7 linked regions of the Homo sapiens genome follow. The protein of the gene in region 1 purifies or fractionates together with the protein of each later gene. This does not show direct contact. Each region holds a gene or a part of one and is shown on either strand. Other genes may lie near its edges.

What was found.
Region 2: the proteins of PTPRH (region 1) and CPT1A purify together in Homo sapiens (affinity purification with mass spectrometry, with the first as the bait; one large-scale study listed by BioGRID). This does not show direct contact.
Region 3: the proteins of PTPRH (region 1) and TMEM192 purify together in Homo sapiens (affinity purification with mass spectrometry, with the first as the bait; one large-scale study listed by BioGRID). This does not show direct contact.
Region 4: the proteins of PTPRH (region 1) and GLUD1 purify together in Homo sapiens (affinity purification with mass spectrometry, with the first as the bait; one large-scale study listed by BioGRID). This does not show direct contact.
Region 5: the proteins of PTPRH (region 1) and NGLY1 purify together in Homo sapiens (affinity purification with mass spectrometry, with the first as the bait; one large-scale study listed by BioGRID). This does not show direct contact.
Region 6: the proteins of PTPRH (region 1) and FAF2 purify together in Homo sapiens (affinity purification with mass spectrometry, with the first as the bait; one large-scale study listed by BioGRID). This does not show direct contact.
Region 7: the proteins of PTPRH (region 1) and C5orf15 purify together in Homo sapiens (affinity purification with mass spectrometry, with the first as the bait; one large-scale study listed by BioGRID). This does not show direct contact.

What each region holds. Positions count from the first base shown.
Region 1 is NC_000019.10:55,206,444-55,211,062, forward strand, and holds the start of PTPRH (receptor-type tyrosine-protein phosphatase H isoform 1 precursor), read right to left. Parts: upstream 3,059-4,619; 5' UTR 2,991-3,058; coding exon 2,940-2,990; intron 972-2,939; exon of another isoform or gene 853-971; coding exon of another isoform or gene 757-852; coding exon 723-756; exon of another isoform or gene 625-722; intron 534-624; coding exon of another isoform or gene 513-533; coding exon 246-512; intron 1-245. UniProt on the Homo sapiens protein: Protein phosphatase that may contribute to contact inhibition of cell growth and motility by mediating the dephosphorylation of focal adhesion-associated substrates and thus negatively regulating integrin-promoted signaling processes.
Region 2 is NC_000011.10:68,758,246-68,762,344, reverse strand, and holds part of CPT1A (carnitine O-palmitoyltransferase 1, liver isoform), read left to right. Parts: intron 1-657; coding exon 658-810; intron 811-2,006; coding exon 2,007-2,120; intron 2,121-2,683; coding exon 2,684-2,776; intron 2,777-4,099. UniProt on the Homo sapiens protein: Catalyzes the transfer of the acyl group of long-chain fatty acid-CoA conjugates onto carnitine, an essential step for the mitochondrial uptake of long-chain fatty acids and their subsequent beta-oxidation in the mitochondrion.
Region 3 is NC_000004.12:165,085,091-165,089,189, forward strand, and holds part of TMEM192 (transmembrane protein 192), read right to left. Parts: intron 3,513-4,099; coding exon 3,378-3,512; intron 599-3,377; coding exon 496-598; intron 1-495.
Region 4 is NC_000010.11:87,088,185-87,092,283, reverse strand, and holds part of GLUD1 (glutamate dehydrogenase 1, mitochondrial isoform a precursor), read left to right. Parts: intron 1-660; exon of another isoform or gene 661-2,722; intron 2,723-4,099. UniProt on the Homo sapiens protein: Mitochondrial glutamate dehydrogenase that catalyzes the conversion of L-glutamate into alpha-ketoglutarate. Plays a key role in glutamine anaplerosis by producing alpha-ketoglutarate, an important intermediate in the tricarboxylic acid cycle.
Region 5 is NC_000003.12:25,721,258-25,724,856, reverse strand, and holds part of NGLY1 (peptide-N(4)-(N-acetyl-beta-glucosaminyl)asparagine amidase), read left to right. Parts: intron 1-1,957; coding exon of another isoform or gene 1,958-2,122; exon of another isoform or gene 2,123-2,180; intron 2,181-3,599. UniProt on the Homo sapiens protein: Specifically deglycosylates the denatured form of N-linked glycoproteins in the cytoplasm and assists their proteasome-mediated degradation. Cleaves the beta-aspartyl-glucosamine (GlcNAc) of the glycan and the amide side chain of Asn, converting Asn to Asp.
Region 6 is NC_000005.10:176,496,885-176,500,384, forward strand, and holds part of FAF2 (FAS-associated factor 2), read left to right. Parts: intron 1-2,029; coding exon 2,030-2,201; intron 2,202-3,118; coding exon 3,119-3,262; intron 3,263-3,500. UniProt on the Homo sapiens protein: Plays an important role in endoplasmic reticulum-associated degradation (ERAD) that mediates ubiquitin-dependent degradation of misfolded endoplasmic reticulum proteins.
Region 7 is NC_000005.10:133,958,248-133,962,346, reverse strand, and holds part of C5orf15 (keratinocyte-associated transmembrane protein 2 precursor), read left to right. Parts: intron 1-2,326; coding exon 2,327-2,853; intron 2,854-4,099.

The sequences.
Region 1 (4,619 bases):
CTCCCGAGTAGATGGGACCACGGGAACACGCCACCACAGCTACTTTTTAATTTTTTTGTAGAGACAGGCTGACCAGTTTCTTTTTACTTATTTTTATGTGGCTGATAGAAAATTGAAATTCTCACGTGTGGCTTCCACTGTGTTTCTATCCAACTAAAGAACCTGTCGCATTTTGTCAGCTCTCAACCACCCCCTACCACTGTCCTTATAAAAGAAATAAAAATAAAGCAGTGGCTGCCTCTTACCTGTGGCAGTAGTGACAGTCCCCACAGAGCTATTTACTCCGTCTTTCTCCACCCACACAGAACACGTATACAATGACCCGGGTCCAAGGCCATCCACGGTGACGTTGGTGGCTGTTGTGTTTCGAGTCTCTGTTGTGCCGCCGTCTCCAGTACACTGAACCCAGTAGTTGGAGTTCTGTGAGTCTAGGCCATCGGGGACCTCCCAGCTCAGGGAGATGGAGCTGGTGGTCTGAGTCTCCACTGTCAGGTTCCTCCCTGGGTTGGGGGCTGAGAATTGGGAAGGAAGGTCTGACAAAAAGGGAACCAGGTCAGTACAATCCCTCCCAACCCCTGAGCTCACGCCCCAAGTCCAGAAACAACGGCGCTCATAAACCCCTACCATGGACCACTGGACCCCACGGGGACCCCCCAGAGGCTCACGGCAGTTGCGGTCCCACCTCTTCGAGTGGGCAGTGAGTTCAGGCAGGGGTCACTCACCAGGCGCCCTGGCCCCTGTCCAGCTGCACAGGCCCTGGAGGGAACCCAGAGAAAACGGAGTCAGCCTCTCAACCACTCCTCCGCCCAGTGAGGCCGAGGGGCTGGGAGGAGCGGCTGGTCCCCGCCCCATGAGTCACCCTTGCATGGGAAGGAGGGGCCGGTGTTAGGCTGGGCTGTCACGACCTCGACCGTCTTTCCTGGGTCGAGGAGAGAAGGGGGAGCATGGCAGGAGCAGAGCTTAGGGAGCTGGGGTTGGCTCCACCCGATAAGGCTGAGAGATAAAATTAATGATTTCATTTCCTGAAATATATGTCCTTGGAAAACCGAGGGCAGAGAGCAATGAACAGACTGGGAAGGGAGAAAAAAACCAAGGTTGGGGATCAGGAACCTTGGCCTGAGGGTGGAGGGCCTGGGGGCCTGGGGGCCTGGGTCTGAGGGAGGAGGGGCTGGGGGTCTCGACCTCTGGTTTGAGGGAGGAGAGGTTGGGGGCCTGGACTCCTGAGTCTGAGGGAGGAGGGGCTGGGGTCTGGACTCCTGGGTCTGAGGGAGGAGGGGCTGGGGGTCTCGACCTCTGGTTTGAGGGAGGAGAGGTTGGGGGCCTGGACTCCTGAGTCTGAGGGAGGAGGGGCTGGGGGTCTGGATTCCTGGGTCTGAGGGAGGAGGGGCTGGGGGTCTCGACCTCTGGTTTGAGGGAGGAGAGGTTGGGGGCCTGGACTCCTGAGTCTGAGGGAGGAGGGGCTGGGGTCTGGACTCCTGGGTCTGAGGGAGTAGGGGCTGGGGGTCTGGATTCCTGGGTCTGAGGGAGGAGGGGCTGGGGGTCTGGACTCCTGGGTCTGAGGGAGGAGGGGCTGGGGGTCTCGACCTCTGGTTTGAGGGAGGAGAGGTTGGGGGCCTGGACTCCTGAGTCTGAGGGAGGAGGGGCTGGGGTCTGGACTCCTGGGTCTGAGGGAGGAGGGCCTGGGGGCCTGGGGGCCTGGGTCTGAGGGAGGAGGGGCTGGGGGTCTCGACCTCTGGTTTGAGGGAGGAGAGGTTGGGGGCCTGGACTCCTGAGTCTGAGGGAGGAGGGGCTGGGGTCTGGACTCCTGGGTCTGAGGGAGGAGGGGCTGGGGGTCTGGATTCCTGGGTCTGAGGGAGGAGGGGCTGGGGGTCTGGACTCCTGGGTCTGAGGGAGGAGGGGCTGGGGGTCTCGACCTCTGGTTTGAGGGAGGAGAGGTTGGGGGCCTGGACTCCTGAGTCTGAGGGAGGAGGGGCTGGGGTCTGGACTCCTGGGTCTGAGGGAGGAGGGGCTGGGGGTCTGGACTCCTGGGCCTGAAGGAGGAGGGACTGGGGGTCTGGACCCCTGAGTCTGAGGGAAGAGGGGCTGGGGGTCTGGACTCCTGAGTCTGAGGGAGGAGGGGTTGGGGGCCTGGACTCTTGGTTTGAGGGAGGAAGGGCTGGGGGCCTGGACTCCCGGGTCTGAGGGAGGAGGGGCTGGGGTCTGGACTCCTGGGTCTGAGGGAGGAGGGGCTGGGGGCCTGGACTCCTGAGTCTGAGGGAGGAGGGGCTGGGGTCTGGACTCCTGGGTCTGAGGGAGGAGGGGCTGGGGGTCTGGACTCCTGGGCCTGAAGGAGGAGGGACTGGGGGTCTGGACCCCTGAGTCTGAGGGAAGAGGGGCTGGGGGTCTGGACTCCTGAGTCTGAGGGAGGAGGGGTTGGGGGCCTGGACTCTTGGTTTGAGGGAGGAAGGGCTGGGGGCCTGGACTCCCGGGTCTGAGGGAGGAGGGGCTGGGGTCTGGACTCCTGGGTCTGAGGGAGGAGGGGCTGGGGGCCTGGACTCCTGGGTCTGAGGGAGGAGGGGCTGGGGTCTGGACTCTTGGTTTGAGGGAGGAGGGGCTGCTTCCTGTCCGTGAGCACAGCTGTGTGTTGCCTGAAGCCAGTGTCCCCCGCAGCAGACACGACAGTGTCTAAGGGCCCGGGTGAAGCTGGTGTCCCCCACAACAGACACGACAATGTCTAAGGGCCCGGGTGAAGCTGGTGTCCCCCGCAGCAGACACGACAGTATCTAAGAGCCCAGGTGTAAGACTCTCCTACAGTCTCTGCCAAGCCTGAAGCCCTCTTCCTTCTCCAGGGGATCTTCAGCACCTACTTCCTCAAGATCGAGGTGCAGGCACCCAGCTCCTTCTCCCTCAGACCTGGGAGTCCCTGCCTTGGGAGCCCGCTCTGGGCGGGGAGCACTTACCAGCAGCACCAGGTTCCCCCAGACCCCGAGGCCCCCGCCAGCCCCAGCCATGCCTCCAGACACTGCCGGGGACCCAGGAGTCCCAGGCCTAGTCCTTCCACCTGCTGGACTTTACACTCAAGAATTTCCCCTTTACCAGATCATTGGTGAAGCCAGAGGCCAGGGCGGGAAGGGGAGGAGGAGGAAGTGGAACCCAGCTCCCAACCCTGCCCCGCTGGCCCTCACCTTCCTCCCTCACCGCTGCCTCTAGCTCTGACACTGGAGATGCCTCCCATCCTTTCTCCAGCCCCCAGCCCACTCCACTTTGTCCCCCGAAATCTCCCTCTGCACCCCAGGTACCGGGTGCCGCGCCCCACTGCTGCACGGATGCGGGACGTGGGGCAGAGGATGAGAGCAGGGGGTGCTGAGAGAAAGGCCAGCTGACTCCCTCGCCTCCCTGGTGGGTGATCACACATCAAGAGCAGCCTGGGGCTTAGACCTCATGCCCCTCGTCCCTGGAGCACGCTCTTCCATTCAGCCTCTGACGCCTTTCCCCTCTCCGTCTCCCACAAGCCCCTGCAGCTCTCACAAAATGAGCCCAGCGGGCTCCTGCCTCTTGGCCTTTGCCTAGACTGTCTCCCCCACCAGATGCACCTGCCTACTTTCCCCCTAACAGTCTCCTACCCACTGCTCCATTAGGATTCAGCTTGGAAATGACCCATGCCGGGCCTGGGGCCTTTCTAGCCTGGTCAGGACCCTGTGCACTGTCTTCCACACCCCAGACTCTCTAATTTGCATATCCATCTGTGACCCTGAGCAAATGACTTAAATCCACAGTGACTCAGATTCCTCATCTCTAAAGAATGGGCACCCTTGTAAATATGCTAAGAGAAATAGATGAGTTACTACGTGGAAAGTCTTGGAACAATGCCTGGCCCATTTTAAACAGTTGATAAATATTAGTCATGTTTATTTTTAGTTCATCCCTAGGCCACCTGTGCTCAGAAGGGGCCTGACACCCAGGGCTTTTCAAGGTGTTTTTGTTGACTTACTATGTGCACACGTGGACTGCCTTCATCTCACATATAGTGCGGAAATGAAGAATAGAAACCCCAGCCGGGCATATTGGTGTGTGCCCAGCTACTCAGGAGGCTGAAGTGGGAGGATCACTTGAGCCCAGGAGTTTGAGACCAGCCCGGGCAATATACAAAACCCCATCTTTACAAAGAAAAACAAAAAGAGAGAAAAAATTACCCAGGCATGGTAGTGCACGCCTGTAGTCCCAGCTACCGGGAGGCTGAGGTGGGAGGATCACCTGAGACTGGGAAGTCAAGGCTGCAGTAAGCTGCGATTGTGCCACTGCACTCCAGCCTGGGTGACAGAGTGAGCCCCTGTCTCAGAAAGCAAAACAATGGCCAGGCGCGGTGGCTCACACCTGTAATCCCAGCAATTTGGGAGGCCGAGGTGGGCAGATCACCTGAGATCAGGAGTTCGAGACCAGCCTGGCTAAGATGGTGAAACCCCATCTCTACTAAAATGCAAAAATTAGCTGGCTGTGGTGGCAGGCACCTGTACTCCCAGCTACTCAGGAGGCTGAGGCAGGAGAATGGTGTGAACCTGGGAGGCGGAGCTTGCAGTGAGTCAAGATAGCGCCACTGCACTCCAGCCTGGGTGACAGAGCAAGACTCTTTCTCAAAGAAA
Region 2 (4,099 bases), on another chromosome or scaffold:
GAGGAAAGGCATAGCAGGTGGCTGCTTTGGAACTGAACAGGTGGTTGGTGTCAGGGTAGGTGAGCTGTGACTGTCGCACGGGACCTTCCATTGGTTATTAGAGCCATTGCCACGCTGGGCCCCAAGTGCCAGGCTGGGGCCTGGGGGTTTTCTGTACATTGTCCTTTAAATTTTCTTAGCAGTGGTCCTGAGAAGTGTCATCAGTTCATTTCCATAGATAAAGAAACAGAGGCCTAGATGAATTCAGCAGCTGCTGGGCCATTCTGCTCACTAATGGCCGAGGTCAGACCCAGGCCACTGGGTCCGCCTGACTCCAGCGTGCAGGTGCTTTCTGCTGATCCCCAGAGCGTGCAGGTGCTTTCCGCTGATCCCCAGAGGAGACACTGGCCAGGGCTCTTTTTTCCGAGACAAACTTCATTCTGGAAAGGCTGTCAGACCGGGCGCGGTGACTCACGCCTGTAATCCCAGTACTTTGGGAGGATGAGGTGGGCGGATTGCCTGAGCTCAGGAGTTCGAAACCACCCTGGGCAACATGTTGAAACCCCGTCTCTACTAAAAATAACAAAAAATATTAGCCGGGTGCGGTGGCTAACTTAGATCCGTAACTGCTCAACTTGAGACATGCAACATATGTCCTTCCCACCTTTTGTCACTCAGGTGGAACAGAGGCTGAAGTTGTTCAAGTTGGCGTCTGAGAAGCATCAGCATATGTATCGCCTCGCCATGACCGGCTCTGGGATCGATCGTCACCTCTTCTGCCTTTACGTGGTGTCTAAATATCTCGCTGTGGAGTCCCCTTTCCTTAAGGAAGTAAGTCTCTTCCACTTCTTCCGTCAGTTGTATTGGCTAGACCAAAACTTAGTAAATTACTACAGCCTTGCATGAACATATTTTAATGTCAGAATGGGCATTTGAAAAAAACGGGTCTGTGGGTGTAGCTGTCATAAAATGGAAAATGTGAGCAGCGCGTTTAGTACTGCATTTCTTCAAAAACTTCGCTGTCACATGTAGCCCCTGACTTAATAGACCCGAAGACCTCGAGAGCTTACGTCACAGTAAGACGCACGGAAGTAACTAGGGAGTGATGAGCTGTGAGCGCGTACCACCTTTGTTTTAAAAATCCTTTATTTTATTGTAAGTTTATGAAATATATTATTATTGTTTTTTGAGACAGGGTCTTACAGTGTTGCCCAGGCTGGGCTCAAACTCCTAGACACAAGCAATTCTTCGTCCTTAGCCTGCTGAGTAGCTGATGTGCACCACTGTGCCCAGCTCAAATTTAATTTAAGTTTTATTTATTTATTTATTTATTTTTTATTTTTTGGAGATGGAGTCTCGCTCTGTCACCCAGGCTGGAGTGCAGTGGCGCCATCTTGGCTCACTGAAACCTCCGCCTCCCGGGTTCAAGCTATTCTCCTGCCTCAGCCTCCCAAGTAGCTGGGATTACAGGCACACGCTGCCATGCCTGGCTAATTTTTTTTGTTGTTGTATTTTAGTAGAGACGGGGTTTCACCGTGTTGCCCAGGCTGGTCTCGAACTCCTGAGCTCAGGCAATCCACCCGCGTCGGGTTCCCAAAGTGCTGAGATTACAGACATGAACCATTGCGCCTGGCAAATTTAATTTTTAATAGTGGCTGTATTTAATAGCCAGCTTGAAAATTCTCTGAAAATATGGCAGCTGGCTCGTGGGAGTTGGTACAAGTCTGACACCTCTGTCCCCGTTCCGAATCTTACTCCATATATCTGTTACCTTCACTGTCTGAGATGCTATTTGCTGGTATGCCCCCACCCCCACCCTGCACTCCCTGCCCCAGTCTGGGGGCCCCACCCACCCCGCATGCTCTCTGCAGATACGCTGCCCAAGCCAGTGAGGCCTTTGGAGACATAGACTTGTGGTGTGTGGAACAATCAAAAGACCAAGCCAGGCTTTTCTCGTCTTCCCAAAGCGACTCCTGAGGGACGGTAGAGGAGGGGATTAGGAAACATTTCCCTGTTTCACTCAATAGGTTTTATCTGAGCCTTGGAGATTATCAACAAGCCAGACCCCTCAGCAGCAAGTGGAGCTGTTTGACTTGGAGAATAACCCAGAGTACGTGTCCAGCGGAGGGGGCTTTGGACCGGTGAGTGCGGCGGGGCTGGGCGAGGCGCAGTGGGGCGTGGTGATGGGATGGGTAATGGGGTGTGATGGGCCCATCTCCGTGCTGGGTGCCCCCGTTACCTTGCGGTTCTACCGCCGTAAAGGAATTACTGCTGATCATTGCTATGGATGTCCTTGGCAGTCTTGCACTTATTTTTTATTTTTTTGAGACAAGGTCTCGCTCTGTCACCCAGGCTGGAGTGCAGTAAGCATGATCATGGCTCATGGCAGCCTGAATCTCCCCCATCTCAGGTGATCCTCCCACCTCCACCTCCTGAGTAGCTGGGACTACAGATGCATGCCACCATGCCCAGCTAATTTGTGTGTGTGTGTGTATTTTTTTGTAGAGACAGGGTTTCACCATGTTGTCCGGGCTGGTCTCGAACCCCTGGGCTCAAGTGACCCGCCTGCCTCAGCCTCCCAAAATGCTGGGATTACAAGGAGAAGCCACCGAGCCCCGCCAGTGTTGCATTTAGAACATTAGAAAGTCCCTTTTTCACGTTGTCTCATTTCCCAGCAACAAATTCAAATTCCCTTGTCCTCCAGGTTGCTGATGACGGCTATGGTGTGTCGTACATCCTTGTGGGAGAGAACCTCATCAATTTCCACATTTCTTCCAAGTTCTCTTGCCCTGAGACGGTATGTATGAAAAGAAGTTCCTTTTTCTGAAGATGGGGTATTTTTGCTTTATTCTTTTTAAGGAAACACATCTTTAATTTGACAGAAAAAGTCAATTCAACTGCCTGCTTTTACTTGATTTCGGGAATTTTCACATAAATGGACTGCTTTTAAAAAAAAATTTTTTTTTTTTTGGAGACACAGTCTCACTCTGTCGCCCAGGCTGGAGTGCAGGGGCGAGATCTTGGCTCACTGTAACCTCTGCCTCCCGGGCTCAAGTGATTCTCCTGCCTCAGCCTCCCAAGTAGCTGGGACTACAGGCACCCGCCACTACCCCGGCTAATTTTTTTGTATTTTTAGTAGAGACAGGGTTTCACCATGTTGGGCAGGCTGGTCTCAAACTCCTGACCTCAGATGATCCACCTGCCTCGACCTCCCAAAGTGCTGAGATTACAGGCATGAGCCACCGCGCCTGGCCTAAATTTTTTTAATTAAAAAATTGTTTGTACAGACAGGGTCTCCCCACATTTCCCAGGCAAGTCTTGAACTCCTGGGCTCACGCGATCCTCTTACCTCAGCCTCCCAGTGTTGGGATTACAGGCTTCAGCCACTGTGCCCAGCCATAAGTGAATTTCAAAATTCTCTTTACCTAGTTTTAAACAAATGTATCTCAGCCAGGCACGGTGGCTCACACCTATAATCTCAGCACTTTGGGAGGCTGAGGCTGGCCAATCACTTGAGGTGAGGAGTTTGAAACCATCCTGGCCAACATGGTGAAACCCCGCCTCTACTAAAAATACAAAACTTAGCTGGTGTGGTGGCACACGCCTGTAATCCCAGCTACTCAGGAGGCTGAGGTAGGAGAATCGCTTGAACCCGGGAGGTGGAGGTTGTAGTGAGCCAGGATCATGCCACTGCACTCCAGCCTGGGTGATGGAGTGAGACTCCGTCTCAGAAAAAAAAAAAAAAAAAAGGAAATGTATCTAATTTGGTTTAACATGTTTACCTCTGTTGGCAGCAATGGTTTTGAAGCTTAACGTTGGAGTGCTGCTGTAACTTTCAGACTCTTTAGCACTTGGAAGATGAACTAAAAATAATGGGTACACACTAAGAAATCTGCATACAGAGCAGGGGACCCCCGGCTTCCTCTGTGGATGGAACAAGGGACCTCCTCCCTAGCATGGCACATTGCCCTTATTTATATTCTGCTTTCCTTGTCGTACATAGCCTGGCAACCCATGCCACTGTCGCTGTTAACAGAGGAAGTTGGGGTTTATTTGTTCACTGCGGTTTTCTTTTGTTGTTTGTTTGTTTGTTTGTTTTAGACAGGGTCTCACTCTGCCA
Region 3 (4,099 bases), on another chromosome or scaffold:
ATGGAGAAACCCCATCTCTACTAAAAATACAAAATTAGCCAAGCGTGGTGGTGCATGCCTGTAATCCCAGCTACTGGGAGGCTGAGGCAGGAGAATCGCTTGAAACTGGGAGGTGGAGACTACGGTGAGCCAAGATCATGCCACTGCACTCCAGCCTGGGCAACAAGAGCAAAACTCCATCTCAAAAAAAAAAAAAAAAAAAAGACACCTATAAAAAAAGGTGCTTCAAGGAGGGAGTAACCAGTTAATGATGTCAAAAGCTCTTGAGAGGTTAAATAGGTTGGCTAAGTGGTTAATTTTTTGCATCAAATATATGGCCTATTTAATACATTTACACATCCTGATTTAGACTTGATTTCACCACAGCTGAAAGGAAATAAACAAATCAAACAAATGTAAAAGTACAAATACACAATCATAAATTCCAAGCATCAGAATGGTTTCTAGCTTTCTAGGGGAAAAAACTCAATTATTTTATTCTCACCTAAATCTTACCTGAATCCAGTCTCCGAGGTAATATTGCTGGGGTAAGCATAGATTTTTTCTTCTTCAAGTATATCAGGCTCTGGTTTAGCTTTATTAAATCTCCGGATTTTCACTAAAATAATAAAGTCATTATTAGATCGAATTCTGAAAGACAAGTCTAGTTTCATTTTTTCAAATTATGCTAATTTGCCGTTCTTATTAACGTCCTTGAGTATTTCAAATTCTACTATGTGCCAGGCCTGTTCTAAGCCCTGGGAATATAGGGATTACATTAGTATTGAAATAGCAATAATAGCTGACATTTATTGTGCACTTAGAACACATGAGGCACAGTTTAAATGTTTTACATGGATGCCCTCATTCAGTTCTCATAAACACCTGCATGAAGTGGATGCTCCTATTACCCCGCAGTGAAGCCCAGAGAAGTTGAGCAACCAGCCAGCCATCTAATTCAGAAATCATGACTTCCTCTGGTCCAGGGGAAAATACAGATAATAATCCTACATTCTAAGACAGTATGGAAAGTACCTTCAATAGAAGCTTGTGCAAGAGGCTTGCACAAGGAGTTGTCAAGCTGCTTTTTGGCCTGGAAAGCAGTGCCTAACTCAACAGGAGGTATCAGAGAGGGGAAAAGAGGATAGAGTTTGAGCCCAGGAATTAATCACACAGACTAGGAGAATAAAGAAGGGTGCTTCAGGTGCAGGAGGAGTCTGAACAAATGCTATGGTCTTGAGAAGCTACACGTATGTATGGGTGTGAGGGTGTATGGACAAGGGGTGGGTTGGGAAGATAGGCAGAGAATGCATCAGGAGTGGCTGGTGTGTCATGCAAGGCATTTACACTTTTTTTTTTTTTTTTTTTGAGACGGAGTCTTGCTCTGTCGCTCAGGCTGGAGTGCAGTGGCACAACCTTGGCTCACTGCAACCTCTGTCTCTGCCTCCTAGGTTCAAGCAATTCTCCCACCTCAGCCTCCCGACTGGGATTACAGGCGTGCACCACCACACCCAGCTAATTTTTTTTGTATTTTCAGTAGAGACGGTGTTTCACCATGTTGGCCAGGCTGTTCTCAAACTCCTGGCCTCAAGTGATCCACCCGCTGAGGCCTCCCAAAGTGCTGGGATTACAGGCGTGAGTCACCAGGCCCGGCCTAAGACATTTAGATTTTATCCTCAGAGCAACTGGCAGTCTTTGAAAGGATCTCACCATCATCCCTGAAGAGCAGGCTAGGTAGAGGCCATTCAAGGAGAACCTTTCAGGCTGGGCATGGTGGCTCATGTCTGTAATCCCAGCACTTTGGGAGGCCGAGGCGGATAGATGACCTGACATCCGGAGTTTGAGACCAGCCTGGCGAACATGATGAGATGCTGTCTTTACTAAAAACACAAAAATTAGCTGGGTGTGGTGGTAGGCGCCTATAATCCCAGCCACTCAGGAGGCTGAGGCAGGAGAATCGCTTAAACCCAGGAGGCGGAGGTTGCAGTAAGCTGAGATCACGCCATTGCACTCCAGCCTGGGTGACGAGAGTGAAACTCCAACTCAAAAAAAAAATAAAGAAAATGCCTTTTATGCCACATGAAAACGTTAGATTTTTTTTCCTTCAGCTATTAGAAAACTCTGGGCAGGGAAGCTGTTAACAATCAGAGTTAAGTATAAACAAGATCATGTTGGCAGGAATAAGAAATATGAATCAGTGGACAGAGGGAAAGAGACCTGTTATGTGTCTCCTGGATGTAGCCATGCAAGAGATGATGAGTACCTAACCAAGGCAGTGGCAGGGACCAAAGAAAAGAGACAGAGCTGAAAGACAGGTAGACTGAATAAGACTGATGACTGACTGATCACCAATCCTATCCAGTTCTTGGGGAGTGAGGTAGAAGGAAGAAGGTAGATGACTCCTACGTTTCTAGGATTCTGATTTATCAAGTGGATGCAGGCTGGTATTGTTAACTGAGCTAGAAGAGGACGGTTAGGATGGAGGGAAATTTTGAAGAAAATTATGTTCTGTTCACTTCTGATCTTGTTGGTGCCTGTGGGACATGTGGATGAAAACTTCATTAAGCAGATGAATATATACAATTTGGGGCTGGGTGCGGTGGGTCATGCCTGTAATCCCAGCACTTTGGGAGGCCAAGGCGGGCGGATCACCTGAGGTCAGGAGTTAGAGACCATCCTGGCCAACATGACGAAACCCCATCTCTATTAAAGTGCTAGCCTCCTAAAGTGCTAGGATTACAGACATGAGCCACTGTGCCTGGCCTATTTCTTAATTTTTAATTTTAAATGCAAGCTGACATTTCAGCTGCCTTCAGAGAAGCAAAAGTTTGTGGATGTTTTTGTTGTTGTTGTTTTAGGAGACAGGGTCTTACTCTGTCACCCAGGCTGGAGTGCAGGCATGTGATCTTGGCTCACTGCAACCTCTGTCTCCCAGGCTCTAGTGATCCTCCCACGTCAGCCTCCTGAGGGGCTGGGACCACATTTGTGCACCACCATACCTGGCTAATTTTTTGTATTTTTTGTAGAGATGGAGTTTCATCATGTTGTCCAGGCTGGTCTTGAATTCCAGAGCTCAAGTGATCCTTCTGCCTCATCCTCCCAAAGAGCTGGGATTACAGGCTTGAGCCACCATTCCCAGCCCAAAAAGTTTGTGTCTTGTTTTAATGGAAAAGTTTCACTTGCATTAACAAAAATTTATTAATGACACAATCTTAAAAGAATGGGGTCTCACTGGTGGTGGCTGTACCTTCCTGTTGGTTTGAAATTAAAGAAGTCTGCATGTGGTCACCACTCAGATACACAGAGAACTTCCTTGTCGCTAATGGGCTATACTTTAAACTGGGAGGAAAGGAAGCAGTTCGAAGTTCCTATAAGAACAGGCTCGTTGTAATTCTCACCTGTGTAAATGAGGAGACATATCAGGGAACAGATGAGTTCCAGTGCCAAGATGGCCAGAATGAGGTCAAGATACAATCTGCCAGGCTCTGGGAAGGAGTGCTGCATGCACAGTATGAGGAGAAGCACTGTGTTGCCTGAGGAGGAGAAACATAAAACACAGCATGTGATGAGAAATACATATATGGTCTTTGTCCAATAGATAGTTGGTCTTTGTCTGGTTCCTTACACAGAGCTCCTAAAACACTTGTAATTTCCTGAGTGATCAGAGCCTTCAGAAATGAAGACCCAGGCCAGGTGCAGTGGCTCACACCTGTAATGTCAGCATTTTGGGAAGTCAAGACAAGAGGATTGCTTGAGCCCAGGTGGTCGAGACCAGCTTAGGCAACATAGCAAGACCCCATCTCTATAAAAAAATATAAAAAATTAGCCAGGCATGGTGGCACACATCTGTAGTTCCAGCTACCTGGGAGGCTAAGGTGGGAGGATTGCTTGAGCCTGGGAGGTTGAGGCTGCAGTGAGCTGAGGTCGTGTCACTGCACTCCAGCCTGGGCAACAGAGCAAGACCCTACTGCAAAAAAAAAAAAAAAAAAAAAAAAAAGGAAAAGAAATGAAAGACCCAGAGAAAACTATTCTTATGCTTAGGTTTGATGAAGAATGGACAGCCATGTAGAAATGTGAGTGGACAAAGTATGATCTACTGGGAATAGACTGAAGGGGCAAA
Region 4 (4,099 bases), on another chromosome or scaffold:
TTTCTGGATTGGGGAAGATTACATAGCTATGAAAGCCCTTAAATATTTTAGTTTGCTTAATAAACAGTATACTAAACAGATGATCAGCAAAATTTGGGTACTATAGCCTTCCATGCTTTGTGTTCAAGACATCCCCAGATCTATCTACCCATTTATCACCCTTGTTTGCAGAGAATGTGCATTGTAAGAGAGACAGGTCTTCTTTCTTAAAGCTTTTTTAACGTCTAAGAAATTGTTAACCTTTGTAGTCCCACTCTAGTCTTAGAAACACAGAATATATTAGGTGATTGAGATTTTTTTAAATGCTTTGGATAATCCCTATGAAATTCTGTCTTTCCCTCTTAAACATATTTTAACACGTTCTTCTTACCTCTCCCCACTAACCTGTCTTCTCTCCCATTGGTTCTTTGCCAAAAAAAAAAACCTCATCTGCCTCTCTCCACCCTTTTACCAACCTTCAGCTTTCTGTATCTCATTTTCCCTCAAGAACAACCTTATCCCTGAGTTTTCTAAATTAAAATTCTTGAGGTTGAAGCAAAGCAACAATCTAGCAATAATCTCTAAGGGAAACAGATGGTTATAAGACTTGGTGGCTGATGTGTACTTTTTCCAAGTAAATATTTAATAATACACACTGTTTTTGTGCTTTTCTTTTCCCAGTTACTACATGTACCTGAGGCCGTTAGATTTGTCTGTGTTAAGGATTTGAAAGGGTAAGCTAAAGGATCTGAAGGGAAGTTTAAGTGAGGCCTTAAAAATATTTCCAGCAAAGGGGCATAGTGTGAGAATATGCGACTGATTTGAGAAGACTGGTTCAAAAGTTCTGGTGGGTTTGGAAATATTATCAAAGATTGTTCTATTAACTTTCCCAGAGTAAATTATCTGTATTTCATTTGCTATGGTTCTGCCTGAGACCAGTCTACCTTTTTAGAAGGAAGTTTATTGTTTTAAAGTCAGTTTGGAGGGAAAGTACAGATTGATAATAGCAATTTATTGATGGTAGGAGTCAATTAACTTTCTCTTCCAGTCTGCCCCCCCCCAGTTGTCTTGATATTAAAACTATTAAAATTCCCTATCACTGATGCTACTATCATAAAATTTTCTAAAATTATCATAATTTACATATAGTTGATGGACCGTAGATGGAGTTCTCTCATACATTGACCCTAAGTCTTTTAATTACAAATATTAGTACCCAAAAAAGTGTACCCTATATTAATCCAGTAACTAGTTTTTAAAAGTCAAAATGCCAGAAGGAAACAGTGGAATCTTGATGACATAATGCAAGGGAAGACCGGAGTCAATGCAGTGTTAAAGACGCCCTCAGCCTCTGGGATGTCATTGTTTAGCGCTTAAGGGAAGACTATAGAAAGCACTGATACTGATTTAAAATGAGATATTTCTCTGCCTTCACTGGGGGAAAAAATGTTTCTGACTTATTTTGCTGTGCTCAATTGACAACCATCAAAACTTAGGTAACTTTTAATAAACTCACAGTTTCTAATATTTTTAAGTGGCTGTGTGTCTGCATCTGCTGCCACAGATAAAATATAACCTTTGTAGGTGAATTTAATTTAGGACTTTTCTGAAAGTTCAGTCAGAGGATAGGTAATTTGTGTGTCTTTTAAAAGCACTTAGCCCCGAGGTTGTTGTTTTTAATACATCTTATTTAAATACGGAAATGTGTTGCCCTTATGCCTTTTTATTTCATGGAAGCCAAATGCGTCTTTTCTCCCAAAGTATACTAGAAAATGAAGACGCTTGGTAATGGTAGTGATCTGTACATCAGATTTCAGTCTTTCTGTCACTTGCGTGTATGAATCCATTTAGCAAGTTTGCTTTTGGCAGTAAAGCCCCACGTGCAGGAAGACAAACAGCTGCTCACTCATTATCCAAAGTATACTTTGTAAGAATTAGGGCATCAAAAATTGGATCCTAAGCACCAATATATATTAAAGTTCAGTACAACTTGTAGTGTTTAAGTACAAGAAATAAAAATTGAGCCTGAACTTTTGGCATATAGTGGGAAGAAATTAGGTTTACCGCTGTTAATAATTCAGAGTGCTTAGGAAAATCGGTTTTTATTTACTTATGTTAAAAATACTAAGGGTTCTGTAACCATTAAAAACTAAAATACTAACCTGTAGATGTTGAAAAAATCCTAGACACTAGTCTCTGCCACGTGACTGTTCTTCTTTTCTATTTATTTTACCCAATAATTAGGCTTTTACAATGTAAGTAATAAAGAGAAAAATCTCTAGTATCACTTTAGAGCACATTGATTCATAAATAGCCCATAAATTTTGTACTCAGCAACCCATAAAATACACATGCATGATTCACATAATCAAATAGTAACGAAAGTTACAAAATGAAAAGTGAAGCAGCTCTACCCCAAGTCCTTCCCCCAATATAACCATGAACAGTCTTAAATCTAATGCCGCTGTCTAAAACTGACTAGTTATTCAAATGAATCAATATTTTCCCCTTTCCAGAGGCAGAAATTAATACAGATTCAAGTGTTCACTATCAAGTCGGAATTGTTAATATGTGAAATACTACTGTTAAAGGCAGGAAAGGCTTTATTAAGGACAAGAAGACAAACTAGGAGAAGGAGCTACTCAAGACCTTCCGATTATCTTTACAAAAAGGCAACTACACCTAGAAGATTCTGCAGCCACACACATTCTGCCTTCACTTGAGGTCAACTGCCTTCACCAAGGTCAGATATTAGCAAAGGCTAACATTTATTCAGCTCTGTGTGTGCCAGGCATTTTATTAAGAACTTTTCATGCATCATCAGTTCTATGCCTTATAGCAACAATGCATGTAAGAACTTTTCATGTATCATTGCTTTTATGCCTCATGCAATACACTGTTGTCCCTGATTTCCAAATGTGGCTACTAAGGTTGAGGAGTGAAGTGTCCTTTGGCAGGGTGACACAGCTAGTACGTAGTGGAGTTGAGGTTCAGATTCTGGGCATCTGATTCCAGCACCCACCTTAATCATTGTTGTCTGGGATTTATTTATGCAAAAAGTTACAAATTGTATCTTAGGCTTTTAATTGTAAGCGCTGATTGAGAACCACTTCATGCCATTGACACAATGCTTCCTAATACTTTGGATCATAGATACCTTTGAAATTTCTGTTAAAAGCTATTAGAAGACCTACCTTCTTCCTAGAAAAATACATATTCAAACAGCTTTGCATATAAAACTCAGCATAGATGATATCTCTAGAGGTCCATTTATTCTAATTGCTAAGGAAATGAAATAACCTTTTTCCCCTACACCCAACTCCGAAGACCTGAAATAACATTTTAAACAGTTTTCCATCAAAAGAGGTTTGAAGACTTTGGTGTTTAAGAGATTAATGTGTTAGCCAGAACAACTCATTTCTCTACCAGTGTGTAGTCCATTTATCTTTAAAGATTTTCTATTGAATAATTTTGAAATTACTTTCTTAGTTTTCTTCATTAAAAACTAAGAAAATGCTTTGTTTATTATGAATTGCTATTTCTCTTGATTATTATTCTTGGAGAAAGTCTATCAGACGTAATTCTTCTGATTTGCTTCTAGGCTAGAGGAAAATGTGAAAGATGACAAATGAAAATTTCAAAGGTTGTCAGTAGTATGACTTCTTTTATCGTTTGTCATTATCACAAATATATCAACATAGGACTTTTAAAAGATATTTTGTACATATTGGGCCTTAGTAGGATTTTGCATGAATTTTTTTTTTCTTTTATGCCAAGAGAGAAAGAGCAAAGAAATAACCAAGGGTGATGTACTCGTATTGAAGGTTTACCAAATAAGGACTGCTTTTATTATGAACTATAGTCTATATTCTAAGTAAATCAATTTTTCTATTATGTGTTTTTTGTTCCTGCAGGCAAGATCTCTGAACTTTATGCAGAGGGTTCTTTTAAAAAAACAAAGTTGAATTTTTTTATTTCTTGGAATATTTTTTTTCATTGATTTCTCCCAAGTAGAGCAGATTCAAATCTCCTTTGTACCCTATGTCTTTTTTGTTTTGCTATAAGCTCAGTATTCCATTTCTACATTTTCCTTTCCTAGAACCAGTCAATAAATGACAAA
Region 5 (3,599 bases), on another chromosome or scaffold:
CACTGAGTCAGAGAAGGCCTTGCAGAAGAAGTAATATCTGAGTTGGCTTTTGGAGAGGAGGAAGAGGGAAAGTTTCTTAGTATGAGGACAGGATATGGAAGGGGAGGTTGTTTGGGGACATGAGAAATAGTGTCTTCAAAAGCACTGAGGTGAGAGACATCTGGTATATTCAGGAAAAAGTGAGAAGTAGAGAATATGGAGGAGAATAGTGAGAAATGAGACTAGAGAGGTAAATAATTGTCAGGTCCCAGAGACTTTGATTACCTTGCAATTATGTAATAGGCAACCATGAAAGTTTCCTATTACAAATGGAGTAAATTGGAAGTATACATGGAAATCTTAAAAATTCTTATCCAAATTCTACAAATGGAATAAATTGGAAGTATACACAGAAATATTTACAGTGGGAACTACAAGTGGATTCATGTTTGATTTTCAACATAAAATGGAATAACCAAAAACAAGACTCATTGCAAGTACCGGTTTACCAGCAACAATTTGAGATTCCTTGAAATACAGCTGCTTTGCTGGGTATCTGTGGGAATGACGGACTTCAGGGTGCTTGCTGTATGGTGAACTGAACTTGAGTGAATCTTAGCAGCCTCAGTAGAACAATAATTTTAAGAGTGTATTAAAGAAGAGCTTCAAACAATATAGTCCAAACTGAACCTCTAGGGAGCCATAGCAGCCTGACATGTAGTAATCAAAAAATCTTTGAGCAAAATCTTCTGTAGAATATTAGTTACATAAAGCCAACATGCAAATTGTTCTCAGTCCTGAAAATAGTGGTTACAGCCACAACCTAAAGACAAGTTCTATTTTTATATATTGTGAATAGTATGGCTTATGCCTAAACCGTAGACACACAGGTCTTGTTCTCACGCAAAGGGTGTATATGCTCATATGTGCTTACAACAAGGAGCAAGGATGGGTCACTGGTGGGAGGAGGGGTTGGGTGGTATATATAGAATACAGGAGAAAACCTCCATGATTTCTGACTTTACTAGCACTCCTGCTAAAGTAGGATAGCAACACTCACCTTTTAGAGACCTACACATTACAAAACCGAGCTTACAGAATGCACACAATAAATTTAAAAAAAATTTTTTAAAGCCAACAGGCAAAAATATGTCTATCAAATAACTCACGATGTTAGGAACAATCAACAGTTGTAAAAAAAATTTTTTTTCTCTACACTAAACAAGTGAATGTTTGCTTTTTTTTTTCCTTTTAAATAAATTATAGTTACTGATTGTGTTCATATTATACATAGTGGGATCAGAGTTGGAGGTTTTTTATAAATTCTATTGTTGTGGTACATTTTAATTTACTAAACTGAGTATACATATTCTTGGTAACTTTCTACCACCTCTAAAAATGAGTCTTTGACAGAATATATTGTGCAAAAAAAGATGATAGGAATTTTCTGTATAAATAGGGTGTTTTATCTCCATATACTGTTCTTTAACATAAGAGACCTTTTTTATTTTGCTCATAGTATGTTTGAATGTTTAAACATTTAAGTATTAAATCATGAACTCTATCTTATTCTTTAACTTTCTAGAGTCTTAAAAGCTGATGATGCCTTTAGGACTGAAAATTTTAAGGCTTTAATAAATGCTGTCAGACATGTTCAACAGCTACTATAAACCTTCTCTTAAACAGTTAAAACCACAGTTCTGACCCAGACCCACACAATATAATTAAGGCAGTTATTGGAGTAAGCTAGATTTGAAGTTAACGTAATTTCAGCCTATCATATTTTATACCCACACTTTTGAGGGACATTTGAATCTAGTGAGCTCTGAAAATATACAAGATATAGAAGTGCATATTGAGAGATAAATTTGAGTATATCTGTTAATGTTTATGTCTTAAGATTACTTTCCTTAAGTCTTTTAGTTCTTTTAATTCACCTTTCTTCCAGTAACCTCTCTGTTTGGCTCTTCTTTCCCAGATATCCCCCTTTGCTAGCCATTCCTTTAAAGGAGCAGTTAACCTGTGTGTAACCCAGATGCCTAATAGTTTAGGATGGGTGAAACTAATGACTCCCGGGGAACACTGGTGGAGTCCTGAGTCCCACATCCTCCTTACAAGCGGCTGTAAGAGGAGCATGCAGTAGGAACATATATGAACACCAGAGGATGTTATAGTGGCGTTGTCCAAACTTGAGTGGAGCAATTGACAGTTCCACATCTAGGTTTGTCAACAACAAATAACAGTTGGCTATACATATCTACTCTGAGTAGTTTAAGAACATTTTCTTTGGAGAGTGATTGTTCAGTTGTTACATAATCTCTAACTCACTGATTCTAAAAATTTTCAGATTAAATTAATGGGCATACCTGGAAGAAAAATAGCTATAGGTTGGTTGTCAAATAGATGGTGATTAGAATACTATTGGCGATTGATTTTTTTACTTGATATGAGTAAAGACCAGAATACAGAATAGTACATATAATAGGATATTCCATGGCAGATGTGTTTTATATGGTACTTTCAACTATTTGCCCCTGAGCTAGAGTATGAGTTAGATGTTTCTAAAAAGATCAAGTCTAACATGAATATATATATATATATATGTGTGTATACAGATCTTTAATAATATTTACTAAATGTTTTTATTTTTATTTTTTTTTTTAGACAGAGTCTCGCTCTGTCACCCGGGCTGGAGTGCAGTGGCACCATCCCGCTCACTGCAACCTCTGCCTCCCTAGTTCAAGCAATATTCATGTATCAGCCTCCCGAGTAGCTGGGATTACAAGTGTGCACTAACATGCCCGGCTAATTTTGGTATTTTTAGTAGAGATGGGGTTCCACCATGTTGGCTAGGCTGGTCTTGAACACCTAACCTCAAGTGATCCGACTGCCTCAGCCTCCCAAAGTGCTGGGATTACCGGTGTGAATGACTGTGCCCGGCACTAAATGCTTTTATGAATCCAGAAACTGTGCCCCCAGAGAGCTTATGATTTGATGAAGATAGGTCAGAGTATGGGCAGTATAAAGGAGTATAGTATAAAAAAATAAAAAGGAGCATTGGCAATTCAAGGTGGGATGAAATTGTGGAGGATTTTTTCTTTTCTTTTTTTTTTTTTTTTTTTTTTTTTTGAGATGGAGTCTTGCTCTGTCGCCCAGGCTGGAGTGCAATGGCGCAGTCTCGGCTCACTGCAAGCTCCGCCCCCCGGGTTCACACCATTCTCCTGCCTCAGCCTCCTGAATAGCTGGGACTACAGGCGCCTGCCACCACGCCCAGCTAATATTTTGTATTTTTAGTAGAGGCAGGGTTTCACTGTGTTAGGATGGTTTCGATCTCCTGACCTCGTGATCCACCTGCCTCAGCCTCCCAAAGTGCTGGGATTACAGGCGTGAGCCACCGTGCCCAGCCTAATTGTGGAGGATTTTTAAAGCTAATAGATTAGACTTAATGTAAGAACCAAGTACTTGCTGTACATTTCAGACCAGGCAGATAACATAAAGAGAGTGGGATTTTAAAACATTAATCTGATCAGAGCCAGGCACGGTAGCTCACACCTACAATCTCAGCAACTCAGGAGACTGAGGCAGGCGTTCAAGACCAGCCTGGGCAACATAGTGAGACC
Region 6 (3,500 bases), on another chromosome or scaffold:
CAGTGGCTAACACCTGAAATCCTAGCACGTTAGGAGGCTGAGGCAGGAGGATTACTTGAATCCAGACTGGGCAGCAAAGCGAGACCCCATCTCTACAAAAAATAAGAAAAAATTAGCTAGGCATGGTGGTACATGCCTGTAGTCCCAGGTCCTTGGGAGCCCGAGGCAGGAGGATTGCTTGAGGCCAGGAGTTCGAGGCAGCAGTGAGCTCTGATTGTGCCTCTGCACTCCAGCCTGGATGACAGAGCAGGACTCTGTCTTTAAAAAATAATAAATGAATGAATAAACAAAGACAGGCCTCTGTGCTCAAGAATGTATATTGTGGCATTTAGAATAGCTGAATATAATATAAAGAACTTCGATGTAAAAAAAAAAGTGGAATGGTTATAATTCCTCTCCATTACATAAGTTATGTACATTAATTATAGGAAATCCTAAAACCACAAAAAAGCACAAGGAAGAAATTTAAGATCACTGATAAACCTACCACCACTTGAACATTGTTATAAATTTTTTTAATTTTATACACAACACACACCCCTATATACGTACACATTTATTTGTAAAATTGGGATAATACTTTTTTACAACCCTTCTTTATGTAAGAATATATCACGGCCTTTTCCCTCATCATTAAATATTCTGCCACATTTTAAAAATTACTGCATAACATTCCATTATCTAAATACATCATAATTTAACCAGGCCACTCTCGTTGGATTTTTAGATTATTTTCGGTTTGTTACTATTATAATTAGCATATAGGGAGATAATTTTTTGCAATTTGTGATGGTTTCCTTAGATTAAAATTTAAATTCCTGGAAGTGCAGTTTCTGGGTGAGACAATCAATATAAGTATATTTTAAGGCTCTTGATTTGTAATGCCAACTTGCCCTCAAGAAAGTTAAACAAACTTAAATTTTATGGAAAGTTTTTAATAACATGGGGACATGCTTGTTACATATTAGAAAAATGCAGAATCAGGCCGAGCATGTTGGCTCATACCTGTAATCCGAGCATTTCGGGAGGCTGAGGTAAGAAGATTGCTTGAACTCAGGAGTTTGAGGTCAGCCCGGGCAACATGGTGAAACCCCATCTCTACAAAAAATACAAAAATTAGCTAGGCGTGGTGGCACACGCCTGTAAGCTGAGGTGGCAGGATTGCTTTAGCCTAGGAGGTTGAGGCTGCAGTGAGTCATGATCGCACCACTGCACTCTAGCCTGGGTGACAGGCTAGCCCTGTCTCCAAAAAAAAAGAAAAATGCAAGATCAAAATCCTGTAAATAATAGCGTTATTTTAACTGTGTAAAAAAATGTATAGAACAGGAAACTTTCCGAGGTAACTGAAATGTTCTGTCTTGATTGGAGTGGTGATTACATGGTTACATTTATCAAAATTCATTGAATTGTACATTTAAGATCTGTGCATTTCACTGCATGTAAATTTTATCTTAATTTTTAAAGATAAAATCTGTTCAACTATTTTGATTGGCTAAATATTTTGGCTAAGAGAAAACAGAAATTTGTTGGAGAGAAAATAGGAGATATGCCAAATGTTATAATGTTTTATCTTTGATTAGTGATTCTCTGAATGACTCTGAAAACTCTACATTTTCAGATCTGCTACAATGTGTGTATGGATATATATGTGTGTGTTTTGGTTTTATGAGATCAGTACAAAAATGCAGTCACCCAAAATGGTATTTACTTGTAAAATATGATATTGATGATCCCTTCATAATAACAGTACTGTGTCACATTTGTTAGAATTAGGGGAAAAGTTTTATTTTAAAAGAGGAGAGGAAAGCTTGCTGTTTCCTTTTCTGCCAAATTAAACTGAGAAAAAAGGTGGCTTATTCAGATTCTGCCACGCTCTGCTTTTGGAATCCCTTATGGCAGTGTGAAATCGTCATCTGCTAAGAATATCAACATTTTTACACACACACACACACAGAAGATTTCAATATAAGAAAACACAGAACTTTGTGAGAGTGCTGTTTTTCTTCTCTTGCTTTTGATCTATTCACAGGGAAGAAAGAAACCAGACCCAAGTGCTGAGACAACAGCAGGATGAGGCCTACCTGGCCTCTCTCAGAGCTGACCAGGAGAAAGAAAGAAAGAAACGGGAGGAGCGGGAGCGTAAGCGGCGGAAGGAGGAGGAGGTGCAACAGCAAAAGTTGGCAGAGGAGAGACGGCGGCAGGTAATGGACGTGTGGCTTTACTCCCTGTGGTTCCCAAACTGCCGAGACTTTGCCATCTTGGTCTTAAGTGTGAAAGGAAAAAATGATAGCCACCTTAAACAGACTAAGAGGGAAAAAAAAAAAGGAAAAAGGAAAGAAAAAATTACAACATGTTGGAATTAGGGGTGATTTAAATTTTTCATACCATTTAAATATTCATTCTTTTTTAAATAAAAATTTAAAAAAAGAGACGGGCTTTGCCATATTGGCCAGGCTGCTCTCGAACTCCTGACCTCACATGATCTGCCTGTCTTGGCCTTCCAAAGTGTTGGGATTACAGGCGTGAGCCACCATGCCTGGCCCTAAATATTCATTCTTAATACCAGTATTAGCTGATTTGGCATTTTACTCATTATCTTTTTGTTTTTGTTTTGTTTTGTTTTGTTGTTGTTTTTGTTCCCTAGCAATCAGACTGAGATATACATTATCTTATTTGATTATGTATTACCGCTTACCTATAACCAGTGTCTTTTAGTCATTTCCTTTTATTTCTTTTTTTTTTTTAAGAGACAGGGTCTCACTGTGTTGCCCAGGCTGGCGTGCAGTGGCTATTCACCAGTGCAATCATGGAGCACTACACCCTGAAACTCTTGGGCTTAAGAAGTCCTGCTGTGGCCTCTGAAGTAGCTGGAACTACAGGCACATACCATGGCACCCTGCTCCCTTTCTCCTTTTTCTCAAATAAATACCTAGACATAATAAAGAATACATGAGATGCAATTGTACTTTAAATTTAGGTTGTTTTTGACTATTCCTGAGAGGTTTTTCTTAGAATACTTAGTCATTAATTTTTCTTCTGACGACTGCGTAATAAAGCTACATGGTCATTGTATTTATTTCTTGAGCTGTAGCCTCACCTTTGCTTTGTGTCTCTGCAGAATTTACAGGAGGAAAAGGAAAGGAAGTTGGAATGCCTGCCCCCTGAACCTTCCCCTGATGACCCTGAAAGTGTCAAGATCATCTTCAAATTACCTAATGATTCTCGAGTAGAGAGACGATTCCACTTTTCACAGTCTCTAACAGTAAGGACCACCTAAGTTCTGTGAAGTGTATGTAGCATCTGGGCTATAGATTTGGAGCTTTTACTGACTCTTGAGAGTGGTGTTGGTGTATCTGCTGCTCTGATGAACAGGGAACAGAGAGAGAGAGAGAGAGATGGGTATGCCATCCGTGGACACCAGGAAGAGTACCGAGGACTGCTGTAGGCTCCTTCAGTTCTAGTTTCCAACTCAAAGCAATTTTTAAGTTTTTGTTTAATTA
Region 7 (4,099 bases), on another chromosome or scaffold:
GAAAATGTGTCCTTAAGGGAGAGTCAGGTTTCAGTAATAACAAGAAAGCAAAGGGTGAAAGAAGGGATTTGCTGATGACTGTGAATTCTATACTGCGTGGTGGAAATTTCTTTATAATTATTCCCACCCTATCAGCTTGTGTCCTTTAAAGGTACTTACCCATGGAAAAATTGTTCTTTTAAAAGTTAAGTTTAGTTAGTTGGCTCCCACTTATTTCAATTTTAAATTTTATTTTAAAACATGTTTTTTGTACTTTGGCAGGAAAATTAAATGTATCAGAAAATAATAATTTTTAAATTCTTGAATTATAACTAAGTTGAAGTGATAAATGCAAAAATTATTTTCAGAAATTCCTGTTAGTAGTTTTCTGAGTAATGTACTGAGTTGTAGGTCCTGTTTATTTCTCTTTTCTTCCAGTAAAAAATTTCAAGGAACTCAATTATTGAAAATGTTTTAAGAGTTTTACTGTAATCCCAGTACTTTGGGAGGCCAAGGTGGGAGGATTTCTTGAACCCTGGAATATGAGAGCAGCCTGGGCAACATGGCAAGATGCTGTCTCAAAAAAAAAAAAAAATTGCATATGGCATTGGACAAATATATGAAAAATAAAAAAAGCCAGGCAGGGTAGCATGTGCCTGTGGTCCCAGCTACATGGGGGGCTTGAAACCAGGAGGTCGAGGCTACAGTGAGCTATGTTTGTGCTACTGCATTTCAGCCTGGGCAACAGAGTGAGACCCTGTCAAAAAAAAAAAAGGGAAAAAGAGAGTTTTACTAATTTATTGGTTTTTTTTTTTTTTTTTTGAGATGTGGTCTTGCTCTGTCGGCCAGGCTAGAGTGCAGTGGCGCCATCTCGGCTCACTGCAACCTCCACCTCCCAGGTTCACGCCATTGTCCTGCCTCAGCCTCCCGAGTAGCTGGGACTACAGGTGCCTGCCACCATGCCTGGCTAATTTTTTGTATTTTTTAGTAGAGACCGGGTTTCATCATGTTAGCCAGGATGGTCTCGAGCTCCTGACCTCATGTTCAGCCTGCCTCGGCCTCCCAAAGTGCTGGGATTACAGGCGTGAGCCACAGGGCCTGGCCTTTTTTTTTTTTTTTTTTTTTTTTTTTTTTTACTAACTGACTACATTATTTTTCTGAGATCCTCTGTTCATTCTAATTGACACCAGCTATTTCTTTTTTTTTCTACACAAAATGGATGTCAACTGTGGTACACAAACCAGAGTGTATTCACATGAAGAAAGGGTTGTCTGTTGGATTGTTAACTTGTGTGAATGCACATGTTTGTGAAAGCACTAGAATGACTTGGTTTAATCTTACCCCTATAAAATATTTTACTTTAATGTGATAGACTTTAAAATATTGTCTGAATATGTTTAGATCTACATGACAGAGGTTTTTTTTTTTTATTTTTTTAGTGTAGTAGAGGTCCTTGAAGTTCTTCAACAGATACTACATTAGATTATAAATTAGAGATGGTTAAATTTCGGCAGGGATTCCTCTGGAATCTTCCTCTATTCATTCTTCTTGGTAAAAGAATAGTAAGAATTCTTATGTAAAGAATTTTACCTTTAGTAAACTATGCTGAGTAGGTAGCAGCACAGGGAAATAAGAATGTGTGTGTATTTGGTGTCATTTGCTATACCTAGATGCCTTCCCTCATCTTCAAAATAGTCTAGTTGTCACTTAGCTCTCAGGTTCCCGTTTCGGATGCTTCTCCTTTAGAAGTTTTTTCTTCTTTGTAAGGATCCTTCTTTTTTTTTGAATTTAGGAGAGGGAGTCCTCTAGTTCAAGTATCACTTAGAATTACTATCTACAGCATGCCTATAGCTTCCCCTGAATTTGTTATGTTGTGTTGAAAGTATTTAGGTCCAAACTCCATATCTTTTTTGGGACCTACTTGAGTGAGAATCAGCCACTTTTTGGTCTGTTCTAGGGATCAGGTAAAGTCTGGACAAGGTAACTGAAATCCACACCCTTTATGAAATGAAAACAGAGGGGATGGGTGAGGGCTGTATGTGAACTTTGCCATCGTGACTTAAAGTCAGCCCTTTTTCTTTTCTTTTGGTGGCAGGCTGTATGATGCAGTAGGTCTTTTATGCTGCTTAAATTGTTAGTATCTAGCAAAGCAATTATTATCTGAAGAATAACTGACTAAGAAGAAATGTAACTGAATGCTGGCTATTGAGACTTAATAACTAGTTTTCGAGAAAGTTATAGGAATGTAGCAGAGAGAAATGCTTAGTGTAAAATTTGGGTAAATATGCTTTTAGCTTGGTGGAGATAAAGTTGGAGATTTCAGTTTGATATTCTTTGTTTGTTTCAGTTGTATCACGGACTGATTCACCGAGCCCAACCGTACTCAACTCACATATTTCTACCCCAAATGTGAATGCTTTAACACATGAAAACCAAACCAAACCTTCTATTTCCCAAATCAGCACCACCCTCCCTCCCACGACGAGTACCAAGAAAAGTGGAGGAGCATCTGTGGTCCCTCATCCCTCGCCTACTCCTCTGTCTCAAGAGGAAGCTGATAACAATGAAGATCCTAGTATAGAGGAGGAGGATCTTCTCATGCTGAACAGTTCTCCATCCACAGCCAAAGACACTCTAGACAATGGCGATTATGGAGAACCAGACTATGACTGGACCACGGGCCCCAGGGACGACGACGAGTCTGATGACACCTTGGAAGAAAACAGGGGTTACATGGAAATTGAACAGTCAGTGAAATCTTTTAAGATGCCATCCTCAAATATAGAAGAGGAAGACAGCCATTTCTTTTTTCATCTTATTATTTTTGCTTTTTGCATTGCTGTTGTTTACATTACATATCACAACAAAAGGAAGGTAGGTTTGGGATTTTTTTAGCCCTTTATTATTTCAGTCATAATGCTTTTGATGATTCATGGTTCTTTTTTTTTTTTTTTTTTTTTTTTGCAAAAAAAAGTGTAGTGGGTTTCACTCTGTCAACCAAGCTGGAGTACAGTGGCACAATCACAGCTCACTGGAGCCTCGACCTCCTAGGCTTAAGTGATTCTCTTGCCTCAGCCTGTCGAGTTGGTGGGACTACAGATTCACACTACCACACCTGGCTAATTTTTAAAAATTATTAAATTAAAATTTTAAAAATTATTGTTTGTAGAGACGAGGTGTCGCTATTTTGCCCAGGCTGTTCTTGAACTCCCAGGCTCAAGCAGTCCTCCCGCCTCGGCCTCCCAAAGTGTTGGGATTACAGACATGAGCCACCATGCCCAGCCCTCTTTCCTTTTTTTCAGTGAAGTTTAAATTCATAGTAAAATATTGAGATGTCTAATCAGCATGTAAATCTATTGTGTATTTTAACACACTGCAGACAGAATGCTTGAATGTATGTACTTCTAAAAAAAGAAATAGTCCTATTTCTTAATGAGTAATACCAAAGCCCAGTGATTTTTTTTTTAAGAGTTTATGTCTTAATTTGGCATCATTACTTCAGTAGGAATACTTGTGGAGAAAATGTTAATTTAATATTTGTCTTTTAATTTATTAACATTGAACTTAATCTTTTGATTTTTTTTCTGGTTATAAAGTGTTACACATTTATTTTAGGGAATTCAGAAAACAGAAGAGTTTAGAAAAGAAAATTTAAACTACTTCTCAGCATTAACGTTTTGGTGTATTTCTGGTCTATAAATGTGCATATAATTTATACATATAGGTGTATGTAATGATTTTTAAGGAATTTTATCTCACAGAGTTTTTTTTTTTTTTTTTTTTTTTTTTTTGAGACAGAGCTTCACTTTGTCTCCCAGGCTGGAGAGCAGTGGTGCGATCTCGGCTCACTGCAACCTCCACCTCCCAGGTTCAAGCGATTTTCATGGCTCAGCCTCTTGAGTAACTGGGACTACAGGCGCAGGCCACCACGCCTGGCTAATTTTCGTATTTTTAGTAGAGACGGGGTTTTGCCATGTTGGCCAGGCTGGTCTCAAACTCCTGGCCTCAAGTGATCCACCCACTTCAGCCTCCCAAAACGCTGGGATTACAGGCATGAGCCACTGCACCCAGCTATCTCATAGAGTTTTATGTCCTGACCAATCATGAGCATTTTCCATAT